Linked DNA regions of Homo sapiens. The protein of the gene in region 1 interacts with the protein of each later gene in a pairwise test. Each region holds a gene or a part of one and is shown in the gene's direction. Other genes may lie near its edges.

The links. Proteins that work in one complex are often made in the same cells at the same time.
Region 2: the proteins of ZNF3 (region 1) and GRSF1 interact in a two-hybrid assay, tested with the Homo sapiens proteins (one study listed by BioGRID).
Region 3: the proteins of ZNF3 (region 1) and YJU2B interact in binary tests that used the Homo sapiens proteins (3 or more experiments, as listed by UniProt).

Annotation. Positions count from the first base shown.
Region 1 is NC_000007.14:100,071,724-100,075,223, reverse strand, and holds part of ZNF3 (zinc finger protein 3), read left to right. Parts: coding exon 1-89; intron 90-3,011; coding exon 3,012-3,500. UniProt on the Homo sapiens protein: Involved in cell differentiation and/or proliferation.
Region 2 is NC_000004.12:70,826,391-70,829,890, reverse strand, and holds part of GRSF1 (G-rich sequence factor 1), read left to right. Parts: intron 1-1,854; coding exon 1,855-2,039; intron 2,040-3,500. UniProt on the Homo sapiens protein: Regulator of post-transcriptional mitochondrial gene expression, required for assembly of the mitochondrial ribosome and for recruitment of mRNA and lncRNA. Binds RNAs containing the 14 base G-rich element.
Region 3 is NC_000019.10:13,754,395-13,757,894, forward strand, and holds part of YJU2B (probable splicing factor YJU2B), read left to right. Parts: intron 1-1,802; coding exon 1,803-1,885; intron 1,886-3,023; coding exon 3,024-3,079; intron 3,080-3,391; coding exon 3,392-3,452; intron 3,453-3,500. UniProt on the Homo sapiens protein: May be involved in mRNA splicing.

The DNA of each region.
Region 1 (3,500 bases):
CCGGAAGGAGTGGAAGCGTTTGGAACCTGCTCAGAGGGACCTCTATAGAGATGTGATGCTGGAGAATTACGGGAATGTGTTCTCACTGGGTAAGGAGTTATGCCTTGTCAACAAAACTCGCTGGTGTTTCTTTGCTTCTTCGTTTGCTAGTAACAATCTAGTCACTGAAAAGAGCTGTTTCAGCAGATTTTTTTTTTGAGGTGCAATGGCACAATCTTTGCTCAGTGCAACATCCATCTCCCAGATTCAAGTGTTCCCAGGTTCTCACCTCTGCCTCCCAAGTAGCTGGGACTACAGGCACGCACCACCACACCAGGCTAATTTTTGTATTTGTTTTGTTTTTTTTTGTTTTAGTAGAGACGGGGTTTCACCATGTTGGCCAGGCTGGTCTCAAACTCCTGACCTCAAGTGATCCACCCGTCTTGGCCTCCCAAAGTGCTGGGATTATAGGCATGAGCCACTGCACCTGGCCTAGGTAAGGATTGACTTAGTCTTAGGAAACTGTAAGAACAATAATCTTAACTCATTTATACAGCAGTCTGCAACTTATAAAGAGTTCTCATATATATTCTTTCATTTAATCTTCACAGTAACACATTAATTGAGGCAGCTAGTATTATTCCTCATTTTACAGGTAAGGAAAGTGAAAGTAGTCCAGGCGAGGTGGCTCACACCTGTAATCCCAACACTCTGAGAAGCTGAGGCAGGAGGATCACTTGAGGTCAAGAGTTCAAGACCAGCTTGGGCAACATGGCGAGACCCTGTCTCTACCAAATATCCAAAAAATTAGCCAGGCATGGTGGCACATGCCTGTAGTCCCAGCTACTTGGGAGGCTGAGGTTGGAGGATCACTTGAGCCTGGGAAGCCGAGGTTGCAGTGAGCCGAGATGGCATTACTGCAGTCCAGCCTGGGTGACACAGACCCTGTCTCAAAAAATAAATAAGTAAATAAAGTGGAGGTGAGAGTAGCGGTCTCAATGTCTTGTGCATGCATGGTCATCAGTTGGGCTGATGAGTGGCAAAACTTGGGGCCCAGTCTTTAACTCCAAATCTGGTACCTTTTTTTTTTGAGATGGAGTTTCACTCTTGTTGCCAGGCTGGAGTGCAATAGCGTGGTCTCGGCTCACCGCAACCTCTGCGTCCTGCGTTCAAGCAATTCTCCTGCCACAGCCTCCTGAGTAGCTGTGATGATAGGCATGCGTCACCACACCCAGCTAATTTTGTATTTTTAGTAGAGACGGAGTTTTTCCATGTTGGTCAGGCTGGTCTCGAACTCCTGACCTCAGGTGATCCACCTGCCTCGGCCTCCCAAAGTGCTGAGATTACAGGCATGAGCCACCGCGCCTGGCCAAATCTGATACTTTTTCCGTGTTATTCTCAGGACTTAATATATAATCCAGAGACTTTTCCGAAGGATTATCCCTGAACACATGAGGTGCTGCTCTTTGCCCACGTCTCTGTCCTCTCCTTCTCTGCTTCTCTGCTCCCCTTCTCTAACTTCTAGGGACCTGTTGCTTTGTTCAGGACCTAGTGCCCCTGCTGCTCTGTAGAAACTTAGAAAGGTTAAGAAATTAGGCCAGGCGCGGTGGCTCATGCCTGTAATCCCAGCACTTTGGGAGACTGAGGCGGGCAGATACTGAGGTCAGGAGTTTGAGACCAGCCTGGCCAACATGTTGAAACGCCATCTCTACTAAAAATACAAAAAAAATTAGCTGGGGGTGGTGGCATGTGCCTGTAATCCCAGCTACTTGGGAGGCTGAGGCAGGAGAATTGCTTGAACCTGGGAGGTGGAGGTTGCAGTTAGCCAAGAACACGCCACTGCACTCCATCCTGGGCGATAGAGTGAGACCTTGTCTCAAAAACAAAAACAAAAAAAGAAAGATTAATAAATTAGTTTCTCAACTTTTAGGATGTAGAATTCCTTGTCTCTCACCCCACTCTTAGTGGGCATTTTCCTGAGCAGAGCCAGGACGTCTTCCTAACTCTCATTTGAGACCTTCCTGTACATTTCCCTTCTGTCCCCGGCAGATCTGGGGTCTGGAATTGAGCTCTGGGACTCTCAGGGTGAGCAGATAAACCTCCTTGTCCCATGTCTCTCCCCATGAGCAGAATTCCCATTTCTGAATCCTGCCACCATCTCTCTGCTAGAATGAGAGGAAGAGCCAAGGGGCCTGGGTTTCAAAGGAACTGAGAGCAGAGAGGTCCTAAGAGGTACCTCTTCAGGTGAAGGAGAAACAGCCGTTCCCGTCCCTAACACACATTACCCTGTCTTTACTTTTTAAAATATCAATTAAGCTAAAAACGCAAACTCTCTGGACCCTTTACATTTATCCTCTGTGCCCAGAGTTGGCTTTAGAAACTCAAAAGGAGTGAAAACAGAGACGTCAGACACTGAGATTCTTTGCATAGCCTTACGTGCGAGCATAGCCTTTTATGCATAGGGCCCAGAGGCGGACTCAGTTGTCTTGCCGTTTCCATGGGCTTGGCATTTGTGGCGTGACGACAGCCATGATTGCTCTTCTTATGGGGCCATGGCAGCCACTAGCATCCTCCCCCTTGCTTGTTCCCGCGCTGCTGCTGTCTCTCCTCACCCTTCCCCCCTTTTCTCACCAACTGTCCTGTACTTGCTCTCCCTTCTTGCAGTCACTGTGTCCCCAGTTATATCCACTGCCCTGACCTCTCTAAAGGCTTTGTCACTTCATTAAGCAATATGACCTTCCTCTTCTAAAGTTGGTTCCCTGCCTCTCTGCCTGATCCGTCCTCCCCTCCACACACACTCAGCTTTCTTTCCACTTCCAGCTCTGTTCTCCTTGGTTTTGCTCTGCCCTGCCCCTTCCCTGTCTCCTTAGCCCGGCTGTCTCATTTTGCCTTAGCCGCACACATGTGGGGCAGGCCTCTTTGTAGGCATGTGCTTTTGGCACTGTAAGTATTCGTTACAATGATCCTGTCCTGTGATTTTCACTCTTTCTTCCCTAAGGAACAAGTGACATTTGCATTTTTTATTGTGTCAGATCGTGAGACCAGGACTGAAAATGATCAAGAAATTTCTGAAGACACAAGATCACATGGGGTCCTACTGGGAAGATTTCAAAAGGATATTTCTCAGGGTCTCAAGTTTAAAGAAGCCTATGAACGAGAAGTCAGTCTGAAAAGGCCGCTGGGGAACTCCCCTGGAGAAAGACTGAACAGGAAAATGCCAGATTTTGGTCAAGTGACAGTTGAGGAGAAGCTAACCCCCAGGGGAGAGAGAAGCGAGAAATATAATGATTTTGGGAACAGCTTCACTGTGAATTCCAACCTTATCTCACATCAGAGACTCCCCGTGGGAGACAGACCCCATAAGTGTGATGAATGTAGCAAGAGCTTTAATCGAACTTCAGACCTTATTCAACATCAGAGAATCCACACTGGGGAAAAGCCCTATGAATGTAATGAGTGTGGGAAGGCCTTCAGCCAGAGCTCACACCTTATTCAGCATCAGAGAATCCACACTGGGGAAA
Region 2 (3,500 bases), on another chromosome or scaffold:
TCCTTTGAAGTAAACAAAACAGCCATTCCAAAGCCAGTGTTTCAGGATCTACTGATAGAAGTGGTTCAAAGGTTTTTTGGTTTTTTGAGACAGGATCTTGCTCTGTCACCCAGGCTGAAGTGCAGTGCCACAAACACTGCTCATTTCAGCCTTGACCTTCTGGGCTCAAGCAGTCCTGCCATCTCAGCTTTCCTTGTAGCTGGTACCACAGGCATGCATCACCATGCCTGGCTAATTTTAGACAGAGTCTTATTCTGTTACCCTCGCTGGAGTGCAGTTGTGTGATACAGCTCACTGCAGTTGTGGCCTCCTGGGCTCAAGCAATCCTCCCACTTCAGCCTCCCAAGTAGCTGGGACTACAGATACATGCCACCACACCCAGCTAATTTTTGTATTTTTGTAGAGACGGGGTTTTGCATGTTGCCCAAGCTGGTCTCACACTCCTGAGCTCAAGTGATCCACCTGCCTCAGCCTCCCAAAGTACTGGGATTATAGGTGTGAGCCACTGTACCTGGTCTCCTGGCTAATTAAAAAAAAAAACAAAAAAAAACTTTTGTAGAGATGGTGTCTCACTTTGTTGTCCAGGCTCAAAGGTTTTTTTTTTAAAGAAGTAGTGCTCATCTAATCTTTATAGATTTGTAAACACAAGCTAGTTTTATAACTCTTAGTTTAGAAGGCCATGTTAAGAAAAAGGAAACTGTGCTGGGCGCGGTGGCCCATGCCTATAATCCCAGCACTTTGGGAGGCCGAAGTGGGAGGATCACTTGAGCCCAGGAGTTCAAGAGCAACTTGGGCAACATGGCAAGAACCCATGTCTACAAAAATAAAAAATAAAAAAATTAGCAGTGTGTGGGCTGGGCATGGTGGCTCATGCCTATAATCCCAGCACTTTGGGAGGCTGAGGCAGGTGAATCACCTGAGGTCTGGAGTTTGAGACCAGCCTGGCCAACATAGTGAAACCCTGTCTCTACTAAAAATACAAAAAATCAGCTGGGCGTGGTGGCGGGCGCCTGTAATTCCAGCTACTCAGGAGGCTGAGGCAGGAGAACTGCTTGAACCCAGGAGGCAGAGGTTGCAGTGAGCCAAGATCGTGCCATTGCACTCCAGCCTGGGCAACAAAAGCAAAACTCTGCTTCAAAAAAAAAAAAAAAAAATTAGCAGTGTGTGGTGGCAGGTGGCAGTAGTCCCCAGCTACTCAGGAGGCTGAGGCAGGAGGATCACTTGAGCCTAGGAGGTTGAGGCTGCAGTGAGCCATGTTCACACCACTGCACACCATCTTGGGTGACAGCAAGAAACCCAAGTTTCAAAAAAAAAAATTGTTCCAGAAGCTTGGGTTTAATAGATAGTCCCCTCCTGTGATAGCAAGTCATAATTGATACTTAGTTCTTGAATTCTCAGCCTTTTAGTGAAGTTCTGGGGAAGTTAGCTCTTCTTTTACTGTGACTTTTAATATCTTATACAGATATGATTAATTTGCACAGAATTGAATTTCAGAGCTTCAAGAGATTGTTAACCAGCAATTTAAAAAACCCTTATGAGATTAATTTTTTCTGTATACACAATTAACTTAAGCATAGTTGTTCTCATGAAGCAAAACAGAGTAGAAAATATTATTAAAATGTATGTGAAGAAAAAGTGTTACCTTGATGCAAAAACTTAAATCAGTGACCTACTCTGTTGTATATTTTCATGGGCTACTATCTGTATGCATTATTAGTTTTCCCTACCTGTTATCTTTTGACACCTGTGTTTCATAAGCTGTTGGAAATATAATGTATACATGTTTATTTTAAATGAGTTCAGTATAAAGTTACTTTGCACCATTTGTGCCTGTTTACTTTTGCTTTGACATAGATACATCGAGATATTTCCAAGCAGAAGGAATGAAGTTCGAACACATGTCGGTTCTTATAAGGGAAAGAAAATCGCATCTTTTCCTACTGCTAAGTATATAACTGAGCCAGAAATGGTCTTTGAAGAACATGAAGTAAATGAGGATATTCAACCCATGACAGCTTTTGAAAGTGAGAAGGAAATAGGTAAGGTCCTGCCTCTTCTTGAGACTCATTGGGTCTATCTTGAATGTTTTGGGTTTTGTGATTTTTTTTTTTTTGAGATGAAGTCTCGCTCTGTTGCCAGGCTGGAGTGCAGTGGTGCGATCTCGGCTGACTGCAGCCTCTACCTCCTGGGTTCAAGTGATTCTCCTGCCTCAGCCTCTTTGAGTAGCTGGGACTACAGGCGCATGCCGCCACGCGCAGCCAATTTTTATATTTTTAGTAGAGATAGGGTTTCGCCACGTTGGCCAGGCTGGTCTGGAACTCTTGACCTCAAGTGAGCCGCAGCCTCCTAAAGTGCTGGGATTACAGGTGTGAGCCAACACACCCGGCCTAAAGATTTAATAGGACTTTACATACTTTGAGTATATGCAGAAAGGCTTAATTATTTTGCTAGGTTTTTAATTTAATCATTTTTATTAACTATATCAAAAGCTGGGTAGTAAAAATGTGATAAAAGGAAGTAAGATGTCAACATTTAAATTAAGATGGGGGAAGATTTGGATAATGAGCAGGAATATTGACTGAAGTAAGGATTTTTTTTTTTTTGAGACAGAGTTTCACTCTGTTGCCCAGGCTGGAGTGCAGTGGCGCACTCTCGGCTCACTGCAGGTTCCGCCTCCCAGGTTCACGCCATCATCCTGCCTCAGCCTCCCGAGTAGCTGGGACTACAGGCGCCTGCCACCGTGCCCGGCTAATTTTTATATTTTTAGTAGAGACGGGGTTTCCCCGTGTTGGCCAGGCTGGCGTTGAACTACTGACCTCAGGTGATCTGCCGGCCTCTGCTTCCCAAAGTGCTGGGATTACAGGCATGAGCCACTGTGCCCGCCTGAAGTAAGGATTTTTGTTTGCTTCTGGATTTAATTATTTCTTTGATTCCTAACCCAGGGCAACATTTGGAATCTTTTAAGTTTCATAAATACTTTTTAAACTGGTACCCTGGGATTATCTTGTCACTATATATATGTGTATATATATTTTTGTTTTTTGAGACAAAGTCTTGTTCTGTGGCCCATTCTGGAGTGCAGTGGCACAATCATGGCTCACTGCAACCTTGAACTCCTGGGCTCAGGCAGTTCTTCCACCCCAGCCTCCTGAGTAGCTGGAACTATAGGCATGCATCACCATGCCCAGCTAACTTATTTTTATTTTTATTTTTTGTAGAGACAGTGTCTGGCTGTGTTGCCCAGGCTGGTCTCGAACTCCTGGGCTCAAGTGATTCTCCTGCTTCAGCCTTCCAAAGTGTTGGGATTACAAGTGTGAGCTACCACGCCCAGCCTTTGTTCTTTTTTTTTTTTTTCAGTGCCTATAATCTAGAAAGTCTCTTTTAGGGTTTAATTCATAATCATTTTACCTGCTCTCTGATGTTACAAAAAGGGCTAAGTTCTTAAACTGGTAATGGTCTGAGGCATTCAGTGCTTATGGGTGTTCAGGTGATATTTGTTG
Region 3 (3,500 bases), on another chromosome or scaffold:
CCCTCTTGGGGTTAGAGCCACTGCTGCGGAAGGATGGGTGGCCCCCAAGGTCTTTTTGTCTTCTGCATGTCACCTGAGTCTCGAGGCTGTCTTCACTTTTGGGTGATAACTGTGGCTCTCCTCAGGGACCTGTAACTCCATGTCCACACTATACTAGAGTATAGTGTGTTTACAGCAGGGGCCCAGGATAAGGCAGAGCGCACAGATGAAGGGTCAGATCCCATGGCTTCCCCAGCTCCAGCACCTGTGGCGTCCTGGTTGTCCCCTCTGCCTGGAATCTCTTCCTCCATTTCACCATACTCTCACTTCCTTAAGTGCTTTTCTCACAGAGGTCCTCCCTGACCACTGTCTCGTTCTCTGTTGCATTGCTGAGCACTTTATATAATCTCATAGCCCTTATAACTCCCTCACTTATTCATTTATTTGCGTCTTGTCCATCTCCCCCGCTAGAACATTCTCTCCCTGAAGGCAGAGATGTTCATCTATCTTATTGTGGCTGTGTCCCCACACAGTAGGTGCTCAGTAAGGGCCCAAGTGTCCCAGCTGCCTCGTCCTGAGTATAGGATTTAGCCTCTCTATGCCAAAGTTTCTCCATACGTCAGAAGGGGGAAATAAAATGAGCTGACCTCACAGAATCATTGAGGGATAAATCCTAGCTACTCAGGAGGCTGAGGTGGGAGGATTGCTTGAGCCCAGGAGGTGGAGACTGCAGTGAGTCATAATCATACCACTGCACCCCAGCCTGGGCTACAGAGCCAGACCCTGCCTCAAAAAAAAAAAAAAAAAAAGCCGGCGCCATGGCTCACGCCTCTAATCCCAGCACTTTGGGAGGCCAAGGCAGGTGGATCACCAGGTCGAGAGTTTAAGACCATCCTGGCCAACATGGTGAAACTTGATCTCTACTAAAAATACAAAAATTAGCTGGGCGTAGTGGCCCACACCTGTAGTCCCAGCTACTTGGGAGACTGAGACAGGAGAATCGCTTGAACCCGGAAGGCGGAGGTTGCAGTGAGCCGAGATCACGCCACTGCACTCCAGCCTAGTGACAGAGCGAGACTCTGTCTCAAAAAAAAAAAAAAAAAAATAAGGTGATGCACATGAAGTCCCCAGCGAATGTTTGCCAGTCTTGTCACCTCACCTCATCTTCCCCATAAAACCTGGAAGTAATAATGACCATTATACGTAGTTGACAGACAAGGGAAACAGAGGCTCGGGAAGGCAAAACGTGAGGTCACTCGCCCAGGGTCCCCTGGCTCTTTCAGCTCATAAATGGGAACAGGGCTGGGCGCAGTAGCTCACACCCGGAATCCCAGCACTTTGGGAGGCCGAGGCAAGTGGATCACCTGAGGTCAGGAGTTGGAGACCAGCCTGGGTGACATGGTGAAACCCCGTCTTTACTACAAATACAAAAAAAATAGCCGGGCGTGGTGGCAGGCGCCTGTAATCCCAGCTACTTAGGAGCCTGAGGCAGGAGAATCACTTGAACCCGGGAGGCAGAGGTTGCAGTGAGCCAAGGTCATGCCATTGCACTCCAGCCTGGGCAACAAGAGCAAAACTCCATCTCAAAAAATAAATAAATAAATAAGAGAGGGACTATTCAAACTCACGTTCCTGGTTCCAAGCCTACATGTTCCAGTAAGACCTGGATGCCCCCTATTGCTATGAACACCCGTCCTGCAGGACATAAGAATCAAGGCCTCTCCCACCTGTGAGACACTTGTCCCAAAGCAGTGGGGGTGGCAGAAAATTGTGAGCTCCTCCAGCTCAGCAGCACTAATCCGCTCCTCATCCTCTCCACACAGCATGGCTCTCTCAACCGATACCACAACAGCCACCCGCTTCGGGAGCGGGCTCGGAAGCTGTCACAGGGCATCCTCATCATCCGGTAAGGCCCAGCATCACCTGAGGACCCCACCGTCCTGCCCCATTCCTTCAGTCTCAAGGAGAGTTCAGTGCCCTCATTGGCCCAGTGCTGCAGGGTCTTCATTCCATAAAGCAGAAAGTCACCGTATCAGTCAGTTATTGCCGTGTGACAAAACAATAAGCATTTATTATTGCTCACATGTCTGCAGCTCAGCAAAATATCTCTGCTGGGCTTGGAAGAGCTTGGCTGGGCTGGGCTAGGCTGGCCTGATCTGGGCTGGGCTCCCATGTGTTTCAGAGTTGGCTGGCTGGGGACTGGCTGGTTTAGCAGGGACTTGACCTGTACAGCTGGGCTCTGCTCCGTGTTGTATCTCAACCTGTAGCAGGCCAGCCTGGACTTGATCACATAGGACTCTCAAAAAAGACAGTGATCGTAGTTGGGCACAGTGGGTCACGCCTGTAAACCCAGCACTTTGGGAGGGTGAGGCAGGTGGATCACTTGAGACCAAGAGTTCGAGAGCAGCCTGGCCAACACAGTGAAACCCTGTCTCTACTGAAAATAGAAAAAATTAGGCTGGGTGCGGTGGCTCACACCTGTAATCCCAGCTCCTCGGGAGGCTGAGGCAGGAGAATCACTTGAACTAGGGAGCTGGAGGTTGCAGTGAGCCAAGACCATGCCACTGTACTGCAGCCTGGCAACAGAGCGAGACTCCATCTCAAAAAAAAAAAAAAAATTCGCCGGAATTGGTGGCGCACACCTATAATCCCAGCTACTTGGGAGGCTGAGGCATAAGAATTGCTTGAACCCAGGAGGCAGAGGTTGCAGTGAGCCAGGATCGCACCACTGCACTCTAGCATGGGGAACAGAGCAAGACTCTGTCTCAAAAAAAAAAAGTCGCAGCAGCACCCAAAGGCGGCTGTCCCTGGACCTGGTCAGTCTGCTTTCTAGCAGGCAGGAAGTTCCTGCTCAGTTACAATGGTTGTGATTCTTTTTCTTCCATATATCCATTTCCTGTGTAATGTGAGTGCAGCAACTCCCGTTAACAGGGCAGTCTAATACCCCACCCCTCAAATCACAACCGCGGCCAGAGTCGCAGGTGTGGAGACCCAGGGAGTGTCCAAGTGGACAAGTGCAAGTAAGATGCTGTCTGTCTTTGCAGATTCGAAATGCCATATAACATCTGGTGCGATGGCTGCAAGAACCACATCGGCATGGGTGAGCCTCTGCCCACCCTCCATTCAGTCCTGCAAACATCAGACCCCCTAACTGCTGGATGCCGCCGGGGTGGGGGTGGGAGGGTCCTGATCAGGAATGAGGGAGGAGACGGGCACCCGAGTGACTGGCTGGCCATGGAAGCCCCTTTGCAGAGGGATTAGGAAGCCAGGCTCTGGCTTCCAATCCCGTCTCTAACTCCTCCTAGTTGGGGAACCCTCAGCAAGTGACAGTGAGCCTCTTTGTACCTCATTTTACCCATCTGCAAAATTCAGATGGCAATGAAATTACCACCCCCGCCTGACCCCCTTCCAGGTGTTCGTTACAATGCAGAAAAGAAGAAGGTGGGCAATTACTACACAACCCCGATCTACAGGTAAGGGCGGCTTGGTGGCATCTTGGGAACAGGTGGGGTGGCCACAGG